Linked DNA regions of Homo sapiens: all the other regions are linked to region 1. Evidence: fine-mapped expression QTL. A gene starts in region 1. Each other region holds a variant in brackets. All regions are shown on one strand. Distances are from middle to middle.

Evidence for each region. PIP is the estimated chance that this variant, and not a neighbour inherited with it, causes the effect.
Region 2: its variant is fine-mapped to the expression of RNF157 in whole blood (INTERVAL, PIP 0.98).
Region 3: its variant is fine-mapped to the expression of RNF157 in whole blood (TOPMed, PIP above 0.99). The same link has a PIP of 0.9 or more in blood mononuclear cells.

What each region holds. Positions count from the first base shown.
Region 1 is chr17:76,237,258-76,242,914 of GRCh38, reverse strand. It overlaps RNF157 (ring finger protein 157), which reads left to right and starts at 2,422. Exons shown (of 19, transcript NM_052916.3): 1 at 2,422-2,762. The coding sequence starts at 2,675. It overlaps LOC105371896 (a long non-coding RNA gene), which reads left to right. Exons shown (of 6, transcript XR_007065913.1): 6 at 1-2,053. RefSeq lists silencers at 2,248-2,317, 2,338-2,477 and an enhancer at 2,782-3,454.
Region 2 is chr17:76,205,573-76,211,347 of GRCh38, reverse strand. The region is part of intron 2 of RNF157 (ring finger protein 157); the gene reads left to right. Among named protein-coding and RNA genes, the nearest start is that of RNF157, 32 kb to the left of the region's middle. The variant T/C (reference allele first, on the strand shown) is at 3,072.
Region 3 is chr17:76,190,706-76,196,480 of GRCh38, reverse strand. All of the region lies in intron 2 of RNF157 (ring finger protein 157), which reads left to right. Among named protein-coding and RNA genes, the nearest start is that of RNF157, 47 kb to the left of the region's middle. RefSeq lists an enhancer at 5,210-5,709. The variant T/A (reference allele first, on the strand shown) is at 2,657.

The sequences.
Region 1 (5,657 bases):
AAAACAAAACAAAAGAGTCTTGATTCACTTATTGCATCTTTGCAATAACCATTGGAGACTGGGCTATTTTCAGAGGAGGAAACGGAGACCGTTTCTAAGGGCTTAAGTCAAAGTTACATAGCTGCTTAGGGGTTTGATTTGTCCAACTCAAAGTCTAGTGCTCTTTCTGTGCCTCATTCTCTTCGACTGTAAAATCGGGGTGTAAATAGCATGTATTTGATAGGGTTGTTGGGAGGGTTGAATGCTTTAATACGTGTGAAGTGTTTAAAACAGCCTGGCACATAGAGTGTTCCATAAATATCCACTAATTTTATTGTGCTATGCCTTGTTTTTCTTTACTATTCTAAGCATTGGACTCATGACTCCTTCGTGGGAGGAGGAACCAACTTCTAGGCTTGGGGAGTATTATTCAAGATGGAGAAGCTGGCTTCCCAGGGTCAGGCCAAGGTGGGACCAGAAGAGACACCCCATAAGCAACAGGACTGGGCTGCTTGACTAAGCCACATCCCTGCCTGGCCCTGGCTAAGCAGAAGAAACTCTCAGACATGGATAAACCCACAAAGGGAAGGGATGTCCCGTTTACAAAATGCCGAGGGCAGGAAGAACCAAGGCTTCTGAACAGAGCCGAGGAGCATAAGGCAACATTTTACTCTGTGATGTGTCGAAGGCCTTGTGTTTTGAGGTGGTTCTAGATTCTTATTTGCATTTTACCTTTACCCAGCAGTTACAAGGTAGGGCCTGTGTGTGCTGAAAGGAGTATGGAGGAGGACACCAGTTCCCTCCCACAGGGATGACTGAAAGCCCTGGAGTAGTTAGGACCAGGGACTCTGCCAGAGAGCTCTGGTGCTTGGGAGAAGCTGCCGGGGCAGGGACTTGCCCTGTAACCCAAGCCTTCGTTAGCAGCAGCCAATATAAATGACAGGGATGTGTTCCCACCATCCTGAGGACCCTGGAGGAAACCAAGGCACTTAGCATCAGGTCTGTTGGCTGCTGCTGAAAAGACGGCAATGAAAAATACGAAATGTGCCGGGCGCGGTGGCTCACGCCTGTAATCCCAGCGCTTTGGGGGGCGGAGGTCAGGAATTGGAGACCAGTCTGGCCAGCATGGTGAAACCCCATCTCTACTAAAAGTAGAAAAATTAGCCGGGTGTGGTGGCACATGCCCGTAGTCTCAGCTACTCGGGAGGCTGAGGCAGGAGAATCCCTTGAACCCAGGAGGCGGAGGTTGCAGTGAGCTGAGATCACGCCACTGCACTCCAGCCTGGGCGACAGAGGGAGACTCCGTCTCAAAACACAGAAAAACAAAAACAAAATATAACCAGGAAAGACCTAGACTCCGTAAAATAGCTTTACAAACCTAATCAAGGGAACCAGACACCCCAAACTGTACTTCGAACACTGTTGAAAAGTTGTGAAAGTCATGTTCTAGCAGTTGAAATGTTTGCTGATCAGTCCACTCTCTCAGGAAAAAAAACACCAGACCCACAAAGAAAATAGAAGGTTTAAAACACAAATGTCTGTAATTAAGCAATGGAATGACGTCTTCCGCCGGCCCAAGCTTCCCACTGTTGTGTGTGTTTTTATCAACAGGAGCTCCCGGTTCTGCCTGGCCCGGTTCGCTTTCGCCTGCGTTGACTCTCTTGGCACTCAGGCCTTTCCAAAGTTTCCGGGGTCCCGTTTCCACGATACAGACAGAGGCTGGATGTCTTGATCTTATCCTCAGTCGATGTTCTCCTAACTTTAGGGCTACAAGGAGCCTTAAACAGCATGTATAGAGTTGGGAGCGCTTTGAATAGACGCACGTGAGAGGGAGGCGGCATCTTCCTAGCCGGTCACCAGCATTAACACGGGGCAGGAGACATGCGAATGCACCGTGGGACCCCTCTCCCTACCCCCCTGCATGAGATTTCCGAAGACCTCCGCCGGCCGACGCTGAGGGGCGGGGTTGGGAAGGCTTCCTCCAGGCGCGGGAGCAGCGGAGCGGGGACCGCCCGCTTTGGGACGCCCAGGACAATGGCGAGCGAGCTCCCGGCCAGTCCTCGCGGACCGCGGGAGGGGGCGGCTCCCTGCGCGGTAATCCGAGCCGGGATAAACAGGCGCGGAGGGGCGACGCGTCCCGGCCGGGTGCAGCGCTCGTCTCCTGGGGTCCCAGCTCCGGCCGGTCCCGCCCCGCCCCGCCGCGGGCACCCGGCCGCGCCCCCGTCCCCGTCGCGAGTCCCCGCCCACGCCCACGCCCCCGCCGCGAGGCCCTGGGCCGCGTCCACGCGCGCCGAGTCCAGCCGCGGCTCCCCGCGCGAGGCACGCGCCGCCGGCTCCTGCTGCAGTCCCGCGCTCATTGGCTGCTCCGGCGCGGGCGCTCCCGCCCCGCCTCGCCATTGGCTGGGGCCGCCGCGGTCCCCGCGCGGAGCGGCCGCTGACATCACGCGGCCTGAGGCGGCGGCGGCGCCCCCGGCCCAGACCCGCAGCCCCCTTGGCAGAGGCGCCGCCGCGGTGCCCGGCGGAGGATGGTGCGCGGCGCGCCGGGGGCTCCCCGCCGCCAGAGCCGCAGCGCCGCAGCGGAGCCGGCCGCGGCGGGCAGTCGGCCCCCGCACCGGGCGCGGGGCGGGCGGCCGCGGTGAAGCGCGGAGGGCGGCGCGGGCACCGGGGCCGGGCCGGGGCTGCAGCCGCAGCGGCCATGGGGGCCCTGACGAGCCGGCAGCACGCGGGCGTGGAGGAGGTGGACATCCCGTCTAATTCCGTGTACCGCTACCCGCCCAAGTCCGGTGAGGGCGGGCGGGCGCCGCAGCCGCGAGGAGGGAGAGGGGCAGGGGCAGGGGTCTGGGTCGGGACGGCCTGAGGGGGCCCCGCGGGTCTTCGGGGACTCAGTGGTTGCGGACGCTCCGAAACGGTCTTCGAGCGCGGGAGGTCTTCGAGAAGGCCGAGGTCTCCCCCGCCCCGGGCGAATTAGCCCAAGGGGCGTCCTGCCGGGTCTAGCAGGGTCACCGAGGGCACCGAGCCCCTCCACGGGAGGACGGGAGCGGCCTCCATTGTAATCGGCCCCGTGACGGGGACGCGTGCCCGCAGGGACCGAGGCTCCTGGGGAGCGGGGCTGCGGCGTCGTAGGCGAGGTCGGCGCCCCGCACGGACCCGGCCGGCCCGGCCCAAAGCCTACCTGCCTCGCGGGGTCCGAGGGCCGCGAGGGAGGCGACCTCGGCATCCAAACAGGCACTTGCGCCAGGTGCTATCCCTGCGCTGCCGTCTCCTGGCCTCTGGAAAGGTTAGAATTAGGTTTCTCCTGGAAAAGCTTCCATTGCCTGCTGAAGGATGGAAGCCAAACAGGCATTTGCAGTGCTGGTGCTTTTGCAGAGGCTGTCAGAAGCCGGGGGGTGGGGGGGGTGGTGGTGGTGGAAAGTAACAGAAATGTTTGGGAATCTGAGTATCAGAGTTACTCGGATTGCCCCTTTGCTAGCGTAGTGGCAAGCCTGGGTTTTGGAGTGGGACCAGCTCTGGGACAGGGCAGAGGTATTGGAAACGTATAGAAGTATGTTTGTTATTAGAATCATCCCTTCACTTAAATGTCTCTAGCCTCTGGATTGTGGTATCAGCATTGGAGGTGGAGGAGGATTTTGACAGCAAAGCAGAGAATCACAAGGTAGTTCAGTTATGTGAGCACCGGCCAGTATGAATTGCATGACCTAGCCGGTGTTTACTTTTAATTGCAAGTAGTTTTATTTTAATTAATTACTTTTAATTTTATTCTCAAGACTTCTGAGGATGAATGGCTGCGACATTCTGTCTGCTTAGGACCCGATGGAGATTTTGGTGATTTCGGAATGAGGTGTCAGAATTGGAGCAGAGCCTCGTCTCTTTTTGGTAGAATAGAGACATACTGAGATGAGCTGGTTTCTCAGCAGTGTGTCCAGTGTCTGCCAGGTGAAAGCAGGGGCCAGACGATGAACCTGCCCGCATCCCTGCAGAGTGTCTGCCAGAGCTGTGTTTCTCACTGCTTTTGTACCAAAGAATGAATCCTTGCAAAGATGAATATGGTGAAGAATTGTTTTAGAAAGGTCTAAGATAAAGCTGTGGGTCGTTAGTATTTTAATAAAGCTCTGACTGATTATGACTACATAAAATCAACGCTAACCAAGGCATAGATTTTGTTTTTTAATAGACAAAAATATTCTTAGGGCGGCATGAGGAAAACTTTTTAAAATAGACAAAAATATGCAGCAGTATTTGTGGGCTCTGTTTTTCTTAAACCACATGGCTTTTATTGATCAAAATATGGAGCATACTTTGCTGAGCTTGGAATTTTCAATAGTGTTTGCTGCCTCAGGAAAGTATTCACCGCTCTTTCATATGTGGGACTTAACATAGGTAAACCTCTGGAAGGCTGTTCCCCAAAGCATATTTGTACAAGTATGAATCTTGGGTGATGATAATAAAAAGACAATAGACCAAACCAAAACTTTTGTTAATTAGCACACTCAATAAATAATCCTCTCCTCTCTACCAGTTTTAAAAGTTTAACTGTAAAACTGTAATTCATGTTAAATCAGAAGTTATACATGAGAGAAGTCTTTATAGCAAGTGGACCACATTATTTCTGTTGAAGCTAAAACATAGAAAATAGAATCAGAACATCCTGTCTCTGTCAGCAAACCTTTGTGTATTTGAAACCTTATGTGAGCTTGCATATATGCTCTAGACGGAGGCATCGCCTTTCTTCTGATCTTTGAATTGACCTGGCTCTTTATGGGATTACAGTATTAGTCCTGAAAGGAACCGTTGACAGAGTTTGGCCATGACCACCATGCCTAGCTAATGTTTAATTTTTTTTTTTTTTTTTTGAGTCATCGTCTCTCTCTGTCACGCCCAGGCTGGAATGAAGTGGTGCAATATTGGCTTACTGCAACCTCTGCCTCTAGGGTTCAAGCAATTCTCCCGCCTCAGTCTCCCAAGTAGCTGGGATTACAGGTGTTTGCCACCACACCCGGCTAATTGTTTGTATTTTTAGTGGAGATGGGGTTTCACCATATTGGCCAGGCAAGTCTTGAACTCCTGACCTCTCAGGTGATCCGCCTGCCTCGGCCTCCCAAAGTGCTGGGATTACGGGTGTGAGCTACCACGCCCAGGCAAGTTTTTTGTAGAGACACTCTCTCACTATGTTGCCCAGGCTGGTCTTGAACTCGTGGTCTCAAGCAATCCTCCCGCCTTGGCCTCCCATTCATTTCACTGATAAGAAAATGGAGACCCAGAGAAATGAATTGGTATGGCCAGGGTCTCTCAGCCAGTTAGTGTTCTTCCTACTATACTGTCTGCCTCCACCTCTCAAGGAATTGGGTTTTGAACTTGTACTCAAAAAACAAGACTTAAAACAATCATTCCATGATTATGGAATGAAGGCTATTTCGTGTCATAATTGAAGTCCCTATAGAGGAATCAACCTGGGTTGATTTTGAGAAGTCTCCTTATCCTGAGTACTAACAGTGGAACAAAGCAAGTGGCAGAGTCAGCTTTCTCCAGATGACATACCTTGTAGTTTGAGTGTTAAGTTGAGACCACTATCTGGCTCGCTGGAAAGCGGCTAGACCTGCACTGCCGGTGGAACAGTTGTTTCGGAAAGAAGCACCATCATCTGTCCTTGTAATGACGGTCACAGTGTCCAGCTGAAATTG
Region 2 (5,775 bases), 32 kb after region 1:
CTGGGAAGAGGTGCAGGGAGTTGAACTGGCCTTTGAAGAATGGTGGGTTGGATGAGGCCTTTCCAGGAGTAGAGCACGGCACAGGCCTAAGAGCATTCAAGTTGTTGAATTGGCAAACATTTACTGAGCAACTACTGCGTGTCAGGTACTGTGATAGGCGCTGTGGATACAGAGCTGAAATGAGCATGGTTTGTTCTTCCCTGGAACAAATAAGGAAACCAGTCTGGCCCGATTGGAAAGGTGGGCCAGGCACAGTGGCCAACACCTGTAATCCCAGCACTTTGGGAGGCCGAGGTGGACAGATCACCTGAGGTTGGGAGCTCAAGACCAGCCTGGCCAACATGGTGAAACCCTATCTCTATTAAAAACACAAAAATTAGCCCGGGGTGGTGGCACACCCCTATAATCCCAGCTGCTCCAGAGACTGAAGCAGGAGAATCGCTTGAACCCGGGAAGTGGAGGTTGCAGTGAGCTGAGGTTGCCCCAGTGCGCTCCAGCCTAGGGGATAGAATGAGACTCTGTTTCAAAAAAAAGAGAAAGGTAGGTGGCGGCTGTGTTACCTTGATAGGTTTTTTACTCTCTCCTGTAGACCGTGAGGAATATTTAAGACTTGTAGGTAGGTGAGTGACCTGGAGAAATTGCTTTTTTAGGAAGATTGATCTGATGATGGTCTTCCATCTTGACCTTTAACATAAAAATAATTATTTTTTTGGTTTTCATTGTTCTCTTTCTTTCTTTCTTTCTTTTTTTTTTTTTTTTGGACGGAGTCTGGCTCTGTCGCCCAGGCTGGAGTACAGTGGCACGATCTTGGCTCACTGAAAGCTCTGCCTCCCGGGTTCACGCCATTCTCCTGCCTCAGCCTCCTGAGTAGCTGGGACTACAGGCACCCGCCACTACACCCGGCTAATTTTTTGTATTTTTAGTAGAGACGGGGTTTCACTGTGTTAGCCAGGATGGTCTCGATCTGACCTCGTGATCCGCCCACCTTGGCCTCCCAAAGTGCTGGGATTACAGGCATGAGCCACTGCGCCCGGCGGGTTCTCTTCCTTTCTATCTGGAGTGACCCCTCTGCTAATTTTTCGTCCAGTAGTACACTTTTCAAAATACCAAATCTTGTCTGCTTCAAGTTAAGTTATGTCAAGTAATACTTATCAGATGTCTACTCTTTGATTTTGTTACTACTGCCTTGGTAATTAGAGTAGACAGATCTTTCTTTTTTTCTGATAGAGCCAGATAAAAATGTTGCCTCACTCACAGGGAGTCAGCTTGTGCTTTGAAAGTAGCCCTTTCTGCTGGGCACGGTGACTCATGTCTGTAATCCCAGCACTCTGGGAGGCCGAGGCGGGCGGATCACAAGGTCAAGAGATCGAGACCATCCTGACCAATGTGGTGAAACCCCATCTCTACTAAAAATACAAAAATTAGCTGGGCGTGGTGGTGTGAGCCTGTAGTCCCAGCTACTCAGGAGGCTGAGGCAGGAGAATCGCTTGAACCCAGGAGGCGGAGGTTGCAGTAAGCCAAGATCATTCCACTGCACTCCAGCCTGGGCGACAGAGTGAGACTCCGTCTCAAAAAAACAAAAACAAAAATGAAAGTAGCCGTTTCTTCTATTAATAACATGGACTTGATGTTTGCATCTGTTTCTGTCTTTTTCCTTTCATCTGATGTAAAGATAGTTTATATATTTTTAAAAAAATTTTGGCCTTTTCAGTCCATAAAGATGATATAAAAATAAGTAAATCAGGGATGTCCAATCTTTTGGGTTCCCTGGGCCACATTGGAAGAAGAAGAATTGTCACATTGGGCCACACACGGAATACACTAGCAGTAACGATAGCTGATGAGCTAAAAAAGAAAAAAAAAAACGCAAAAAAATCTTACAATGTTTTAAGAAAGTTTACGAGTTTCTGTTGGGCCACATTAAAAGCCATCTACCCCTGGGCCGCAGGTTGGACAAGCTTGAAGTAAATGCTGCTTTAGGTTCAACTTGAAGTTTATGCTGGCTGGCAGACTTTTCCTAAGTTTGCCTATGCCGACCTATGAATGACTGAGCTCTTTCTGAAATGCTAGGTAGCAGCCTTAACCTTAAAGTTGAGGCTTTTTCCCAAAGAAGATCAAGCTGGGCACAGTGGCATGTGCCTGTGGTCCCAGCTACTCAGGAGGCTGAGGCTGAGATGGGAGGATCACCTGAGCCCAGGAGAATTCGAGTCCAGTTTGAGCAATATAGCAAGACCTCCATCTTAATCAATCAATCAATAAATGCCACTTAAAAAAAAAAAGAACATCAACATTGGAGTTTTTGTTGTTGCTTTTATGTAGTAATCATTAAGTATGCTTAATGTTACACATAGCAAATGAATTTTTTTTTTTTTTTGAGGCAGAGTCTCACTCTGTCACCCAAGCTGGAGTGCAGTGGCACGATCTTGGCTTACTGCAGCCACAGTCTCCTAGGCTCAAGTGATTCTCCTGCCTCAGCCTCCTGACTAGCTGGGATTACAGGTGCCTGCCACCACACCTGGCTAATTTTTGTGTTTTTTTAGTAGAGATGGGGTTTCACCATGTTGGACAGGTTGGTCTTGAACTCCTGATCTCAGGTGATCTGCCCATCTCGGCCTCCCAAAGTGCTGGGATTACAGGTGTGAGCCACCGCGCTGGCAAATGTTTTTAAAAGACATAATTTTATATTAGGAAAGCAAATCAGAGTAACTTCATATAGCTGCATAAAAATGTAGTATAGAGAATAAATGCCACATGTTTCTCTTTTTCTTTTCCCCACAGGTTATTTGATAATAATAATGATGGCTAACATTTGAACACCTAGTTTTTGCCAGGGCTGATTGTTCTAAGCTTTTCATCTGTGTTGTCTCATTTTGTCCTCACATCATGATGAAAAAGGTCCTCATTCAACAGGTGAAGAACATGTGGCACAGAGAGTTTAAAGACTGCACAGCCTGTAAGGGATCAGGATTGGAACCTAACAGTCTGGCTCCAGAGCCTGAACCATGCTGCCATTTTTGCTAATTAGGCCAGGTGTACTCAGAAACTCTGCCCACATCCTGTTTGTGAGTCCA[T/C]TGTGTAGATCTTCAAGTGCAATTTCTGAAATATTGGTATCTGAAAGTGGAATGAGGCCAGCACAGTGGCTCATGCCTGTAGTCCCAGCTGCTCAGGAGGCCGAGGCCTATAGATCTCTTGAGCCTAGAAATTGAAAACCAGCCTGGGCAACATAGCGAGACCCTCATCTCTACAAAATATAAAATGATAAAAATTAGCCAGGCGTGGTGGTGCATGCCTCTAGTCCCAGCTACTCAGGAGACTGAGGTGGGAGGATCACTTGAGCCCAGGATGCCAAGGCTTCAGTGAGCTATGATCACTGCAGCCTGGGCAACAGAGCAAGAACCTGTCTCAATAAATAAATAAATAAAAGTAGACGAGTGGCAGTGATATGTTCTCTTGGAGCGCCTCTTCAGAGTTCGTATTCCATGTGTAATTCCATCTGCTGAGCTGACCTCTGGGTTTTGCCATTACTGCACAACATGCTTGTTTAGGGGAAGGCTCAGAGATTGAAGATTGACATGTAGCTTGAGTTCTAAACAGCTGACTTCCACTCTCTAGCAAAAGATCTTGGGTGTCAGCACATGAGTGTTAGGTTACAGGGGAGCAAGAAAGAGAACAACCTTTTAAAGCCATCCAGCAGCATGCGGCAAGAACGACTCCTCTTTGCAGAGAGAGTGAATATGGGCAGTGAAATATGTTAAAATGAATTGTTATATTAAGCTATAAATGCCATAGACTTCCTGGCTTGTGCAATTCCCTGTCATTTCTGAATGAGCAGACTAAAAAGTTTGTCATTTGACTGAGCTGTACTTCGCACCACAGATCTACCACTTAGGATAATCCATCAAAGCCAATTTTTTTTTTTCCCCTAGAGATAGGGACTTGCCCTGTCACCCAGGCTGGAGTGCAGTGGCGTGATCATTGCTCACTGCAGCCTCAAACTCTTGGGCTTAAATGATCTGCCTGCCTCAGTCTCCTGAGTAGCTGGGAATAAAGGTGCATGCTACTACACTGGGCTAATTTTTAAAATTTTTTTTGTAGAGACAGGGTCTTTCTTGCTTTATTGCCCAGGCTGATCTCAATCTCCTAGCTTCAAGCAGTCCTCCTGCCTCAGCCTTCCAAAGTGTTGGGATTGCAGGTGTGAGCCACCAAGCCCGGCCCAAAGCCAAATTTATTATCAAGTCTTAAGGGTCAGATTTAAAGAAACTAGAGTGTGTGTATATACAGAAAGATGGTGGAAGAAAGTTGGAATCTAGATTTCAAGTTTTATTTATATCTTACCATTAAACTCTTTGTAACCTTGGCAAACGTATCACTCAGGTGCTCAGATTACCTGCTTGTAGCATGGAGGTAGTTCTGACTTTAGAATAATGTAATGCTTGGAAGATTCCTTGTAATTGCTGGACAAAAAGCAGCATGCAGCAATGTTAGCTATACTTGCTACCTTTCCAGTTGGTTATTTCTACAGCTACTTGTCATTCTAGGTAGGGTTCTTCACTGTTTTCTTTGTTTGTTTTTTGAGACAAAGGTTCACTCTTGTTGCCCAGGCTGGAGTGAGCCGATTGCAGTGAGCCGAGATCCCAAGATCACGCCATTGCAGTCCAGCCTGGGCAACAAGAGCGAACCACCATGCCCAGGTAATTTTTTGTATTTTTAGTAGAGACAGGGTTTCACTATGTTGTTCCAGGCTGGTCTCGAACTCCTGACCTCAGGCAATCCACCCACCTCGGCCTCCCAAAGTGCTAGGTGGCATGAGCCACCTTGGCCGGCCTCTTCACTGGTTTTTAAATACTGTCTTAAGTAGTAAACTGGGCTTCTGAAGGTCTTTCTGCTCTGGTCCCTTATATAAAGGAACTAAGGTATCTGTGAATCAGTTACAAAATGTTAAATAAAGACCATCCCTTCCCTTCCTAGGTGGCAGAAGAGCTGGTGTTGCTTTTCTGCTCCTTTATTGAGTTAGATCTTGTTTTGTTGGGATAATTACTGCCCAACTCTAAGTTATTAGAGGCTTAGAAATTAGTCAAGTAATGCCTTGACTCCTTCCTGGCCTTTTTTTTCCTTTTGAGACAAGGTCTTGCCCTGTTGCCCAAGCTGAGGTACAGTGGCACAACTACAGCTCACTGCAGCCTCGACTTCCTAGGCTTAAGTGATCCTCCCACCTCAGATTCTCCAGTAGCTGGGACTACAAGCACGCCCCACCATGCCTGGCTTTTTAAAAAAAATTTCTATAGAGAGAATGTCTTACTACATAGCCCAGGCTGGTCTCAAACTCCTTTGCTCAAGTAGTCTTCCTGTCTTGGCCTCTGAGAGTGCTGGGATTATAGCTATGAGCCACTGTGCCCCACCTCTGCCTGCCTTTTGTAGGCAGGAGTTCAAACCGCTCCTCTCATTTTATAAGGAAAGTAGTTGAGTTTTAACCTAGTTCCTAATAGTCTGTATCCTCTCGTGTGTTCTGTAGCTGGGCCGCATTGACACAGTTTCTTCTTCCTCATGCTCCCTGCAATCAGAGCTGCACAGCTGGCATTATTATTTTATTTATTTATTTATTTATTTATTTATTTATTTATTTAGAGATGGAGTCTTGCTCCGTCGCCAGGCTAGAGTGCAGTGGCACGATCTTGGCTCACTGCAACCTCTGCTTCCCAGGTTCAAGCAATTCTTCTGCTTCAGCCTCCCAAGTAGCTGGGACTACAGGCACACACCACCACGCTCAGCTAGTTT
Region 3 (5,775 bases), 46 kb after region 1:
GTCATCCATGCACAGTTGATTTTCACAAAGTGAGCCCTCCGCTGTGGCCAGCATTCAGATGAAGAAGTAGCACATGGCCAGCACCCCCAGAAGCTCCCCTTCTGCTCCTTTCCTGTTGTTACCTCTAGCCTAAGGTAACCGCAATCCTAACTTCTGTCCTGGTTTGAACTTTATATAAGTGGAACTGTGTTCAATTTGCTCTTTAATGTCTGGCTCCTTTCACTCAGCATCTTTGTGACATTTATTTATCTCATGGTAGCTTAGCCCAGGAGGGTCCTTGGCTTTGCTCAGGAAAGAATTTAAGAGCCAGTGGTGGAAGAAAACAGCTTTATTGAGGCGGCAGTGTTACAGCTCTGTGACTGCTCCTGCAGAGCAGGGCTACCCAAAGGCAGTGTGTTGAGAGTAGCGGCTCAGAGCAGGTTTGTAATCATATTTATACCCACTTTTAATTATGTGCAAATTAAGGGACAAATTATAAAGAAATTTCAAGAAGGATAGTACCTTCCGGGTCATTGGGTCATTGCCATGAAAGAGGGTGGTAACTTCCAGGTGTTGCCGTGGCAATAGTAAACTGACATGGCACACACTGACAGGTATGGGAGGTATGGGCTATCTTATGGAAAGCTGCTTCTGCCCAGTCCCTGTTTTAGCTTGTGCTCAATTTAGTCTGATGTGCGAGCCCCACCTCTGGAGTTGAGTCTCACTTCTTGAGTCAAGTCCTACATCCTACCTCAATGGCGTACAGCAACGAGAAGGAACAAACTATTCCTGTGCTGTGTACGGTTCATTTCCATTGCTGCATAGTATTTCATTGTGTGAATACACCATAATTTATCCACTCTATTGTTTGCAGGCATTGAGCTTTTTTGGGGCATTTTGGCTATTACACATAGTGCTGCTATGAACGTTCTATTATTACATGTATTTTGTTGTGTATATGTATGCATACCTGTTAAGGCTATAGCTAGGAGAATTGCTGAGTCATAGAATATGCTGTAGTAGATACCGCTAACCGCTTTTCAAAGTGATTCTACCAATTTTTTTTTCCCACTAGCAGTGTTTAGAATGTCCAGCACCTAGTATTTTCCATCTTTTTAATCTTAGCCATTGTGGTAGGTTTGTAGAATTTATTTTCATTTTCCCGATAACCAATGAAGTTGGAGAGACAGGTGATCTCCTGGTTACGTGGTGTCTGGAAAAAGATCTAGGGGTCTAAATGCTTTTCACACCAACCCCAGTCTCCTGTTTCCAGCCTTGCTCTACCCCGCTTGTAGGAGGACCTACACCTCCATTTCCTAAGCCTGTCTGGAGTTCTGTGACATGAATATGTTTCTGCCATTTGGGATTTCGGCCCTTTCTGTTCTCCTGAATCGCTTTCCACTTGTCAGTGTGTGTTTCAGCTTCCAAGTTTTTATTATAATATCCTCTCCCATTCCCTCTGCTCTTGTGTTTTGTTTTGTTTTTTTGAGACAGAGTCTCGCTCTGTCACCCAGGCTGGAGTGCAGTGGTGCTATCTCGGCTCACTGTAAACTCCACCTCCCGGGTTCACGCCATTCTGCTGCCTCAGCCTCCTGAGTAGCTGGGACTACAGGCGCCCGCCACCACGCCTGGCTAATTTTTTGTATTTTTAGTAGAGACGGGGTTTCACCATGTTAGCCAGGATGGTCTCGATCTCCTGACCTCGTGATCTGCCCACCTTGGCCTCCCAAAGTGCTGGGATTACAGGTGTGAGCCACCGTGCCCGGCCTGCTCTTGTGGTTTTATATTTTTCTCTCTCTCTTTTTAAATCTCTTTACTATTGTTTTAGTAGCAATTCAGAAGAAAGCAGAGTTATCTAAACTGGAAGGAAACCTAATCGTGTCTGGTACTGTATATTATACAATCATGGAAGAGGACATAGGCCATTTCTATAGAGACTATTTTAAATGAGTTATTTGTCTTTGGGTTTAAACTATCCACTTCACAGCCCACTAAGAAGCGTCCTGCTTTCGGGGGTCTTTCAGCAGAGCCTGCAGAGTCATCTCAGGCTCTAGTGAATTTACCGCCCTTCCCACCATCAGACTGGCTTCACTATTTCTGATGTATTTGAAAGTCTCCTATGGTGGCTGAGTGCGTGGTGTTCTATGCGAACTGAATGAGGCCTTTGGCTATTTTACTTAAGCATTGTAAAGAGTGTTGTGTCATTCTGGAAAGAGCAAAACGATAGAGATAAGAAATAGATCAATGGTTGCCAGGGACTGGGGTGCATGGAGGAGTTGACTAGAGAGGGCACAAGGGAATGTGGGGGTAATGGAAATGTTCTTTATTTTGTTTGTAATGGTGGTTACACTGTTGTGTGTGTTTGTCAAAATTCACAGAACTGTACACCAAAAAGGCTGAATTTTACTGTATATAAATTATACCTTGATAAACAAACCAACAAAAAAACAGAATGTGCCTTGGAAAGAGGTGATTAATAGAAATGTGATTGCCTTCTCTGTGGCCTGGTTCCCATGTAGTCCAGGGAGTCCCGTTTGTGGACGTGTACCCCAGAGAAGTGGTAGCCGTGTCCCCCAGGGCTGTCTGTGGATGTGGAGGTGGGAGGGGTAGCAGGGCAGCATTGCTCCTGCATCAGCAGCCCTCGGCCAGGCGCTAATCTCAGATCTGAAACTATGGG[T/A]GCGGCAGCCTCACTGCAGGATGCGGGAGAGCCTGCCCAGGAGCTGTGCCTCAGACCTCTGTTTTGTTTTCTCGCTCAGCTCCTGATTGTTTCGGATCAGGCTTCAGAAGTCACGTTTGTTTGTTAGACAGTCAGGGTCACAACAGACAAAAGGAGAACGTGCTTAACTCTCACGTTACCTTAGACAGTGTCTTCCATTTCCCTAGTGATCCTAAACCGAGAATCTCAGAGAGCCTTTCAGTCACTATGGTAGAAACTTGTATGTGTCCGTGGGTGGGGGGTGGTGGGGGTAGCTGTTTCCAAGATGTTAAATTCCAGTAGAATATAGGGCAGATCTACAATAATTCTTCTGGGTCACGACCAAGTGAGATATATCCTAACTGTATTTACTTCAAGTGCTTTGGGATTTGTAGATAAGAGATACTTACCTAATTGCTTGTATTTCATTTGTGCATTATTTTTTCCAAGCATTCAAAATAGCATTACAAGTTCTTTAATGAAGATGTTATCACTAATGCTAATCACTAAGGATCACTAATGATAACATATATTTTTATAGCACTGTATGGTTTTCAAAACATTTTTATTTGATCTTAATGACCCTATGAGATAGACAGAAGCTATAAATCTCATTTTACAGATAAGGACATTGATGCTCAGAGATGTTAAGTTATTTGCCCAAAGTCTTGTGTATGAAGTGAGAGAAGGCTGAGTGCTCTGGCCCACGCCTGTAATCCCAGCATGTTGGGAGGCCGAGGCGGGAGGATCACTTGAGCTCTGGAGTTTGAGACCAGCCTGGGAAACAGCGAGGTCCCGTCTCTACAAAAAGTCAAAAATTAGCTAGGTGTGGTGGCGCGCGGCTGTTACTCACGTGGCTGAAGTGGGAGAATCACTTGAGCCTGAGAGGTTGAGACTGCAGTGATGGCCATCGCAGTCACCCTGTGCAAGAGAGCGGATGCTGTCTCAAAAAAAAAAAAAAAAAAGGAAAGAAAGTGGGAGAGCTGAAACAAGAACCTGTGTCTTCTGGCTGTTGATATCATACTTGTTTTATTAAATCATTTCATCTTCATTTTCCAGTCTTTCATACAACTCACTGGCAGAACCAGAGGGTTTCAGCTGCTAGTCAAGCTTACTCAGTATTACTCCACAAACCCTTAATTTAAAAACACATGGTGGTCTGTGTTTTTCAGTTATTTTGTGAGCATTAATTGTACCAGTCTGCCATTTAGTCTGCGGGGCAAATATTCAAAATCTAAAGAGTCACCATGGGCATATGCTGTACTCTTCCGAAGATCTTGTTGTTCGTGTATTCATTCTACAGACATCTATTTCTGCCTTCTGTATGTGCTGGTCTAATCACTAGGGGTAACACGAAGAGGATTCCTACATGGATTTTGCCCTCAAGTTTATAATTTCATGGAGAAGATCAGACTTGGACATACATAGCTATAATACAGAGCAGGGAGTGAAAAATGAAGTATAAAAATAGTCATGTAAAAGCTTGGAGAAAGGAACTTTATAATGTAAATGTTGCTGACTCGAAAAGTGCCACTAAGTGCTTGAACTTTTGCTTCGTTGTTTGATGCCATGTTTCTTAACAAACCAGAGTACAAAGAACTGCTGTGGTATTCAGTAGTGGAACTAAAGCATCTGTGTTGTAGGAATTTCCTCGAAATTTCTTTGAAACATATTGAAACCAAGTGTGCACACTCTCACCTCTGTTTCCTGTTGTCATTGTGCACCCCATCTGACGGGAAACTATACTTACTGGTTTTGCATTTCAAAGAAAAATCTGGTTAACTTTTTCAGCATTTAAAGAGATGCATAGTGGCCTTAACTGTTACTGAAACTGTTATATAAAAGTCTGTATTGTATTGTCAAAGACTTACGAGTCAAATAGCTTAACAGTTGATTACACGTAAATTTTGTCCCTAAGCAGCACACTTCATTCTCTAAGATGGTCTTTCCCGGCCAATCAAATAAAATAGTAGCCCTGATTATTACAGAAATTAATCAGACATATACTTTATCTTTACATTTTAATATTTTTTTAGACAGGGTCTGCCTCTGTCACCCAGGCTGAAGTGCAGTGGTGCAATTATAGCTCATTGTAGTTTCAACCTCCCAGGCTCAAGCAGTCCTCCCACGTCAGCCTTCCTAGGAGCTGGGACTACAGGCACATACCACTACACCTGGCTAATGTTTTTTTTTTTTTTTTTTTTTTGAGGCGGAGTCTTGCTCTGTCGCCCAGGCTGGAGTGCAGTGGCGTGATCTCAGCTCACTGCAACCTCCACCTCCGGGTTCAAGCAATTCTCTGCCTCAGCCTCCTGAGTAACTGGGATTACAGGTGCCTGCCACCACGCCCAGCTAATTTTTGTATTTTTAGTAGAGACAGGGTTTTGGCCAGGCTGGTCTTAAACTCCTGACCTCATGATCCTCCCGCCTCAGCCTCCCAAAGTGTTGGGATTACAGGTGTGAGCCACCGCGCCCAGCCCTAATTTTTTATTTTTTTGTAGAGACGGTGTCTCACTATGTTGCCCTAACCGATCTTGAACTCCTGGGCTCCAGCGATCCTCCTGCCTCAGCTTCCCAAAGTACTGGGATTATAGGCATAAGCCACCACACCCAGCCCACTTTATCTATAGAAGGCAGCACTGAACTTTAGGGTAAATGTTGGTATAATTATAGAATAGAATGTAGTCCTTAGCCATATTTTCTACTTATTAAAAACTTAAATGCTGGTAACACAAGAGGTTTATGTCCTCTGCTAATCCATATCGTAACTTTTTTTTTTTTCTTTTTGTAGAAACAGTCCCACTATGTTGCCCAGGCTGGTCTTGAACTCCTGGCCTCCCAAAGTGCCGGGACTACAGGTGTGAGCCACTGCATTCAGCCGTGTAAACTTTTTTTTTTTTTTGAGACAGAGTCTCGCCCTGTCGCCCAGGCTGGAGTGCAGTGGCACGATCTCGGCTCACTGCAAGCTCCGCCTCCCGGGTTCGTGCCATTCTTCTGTCTCAGCCTCTGGAGTAGCTGGGACTACAGGGCGCCTGCCACCATGCCCGGCTAATTTTTTGTGTTTTTAGTAGAGACGGGGTTTCATCGTGGTCTCGATCTCCTGA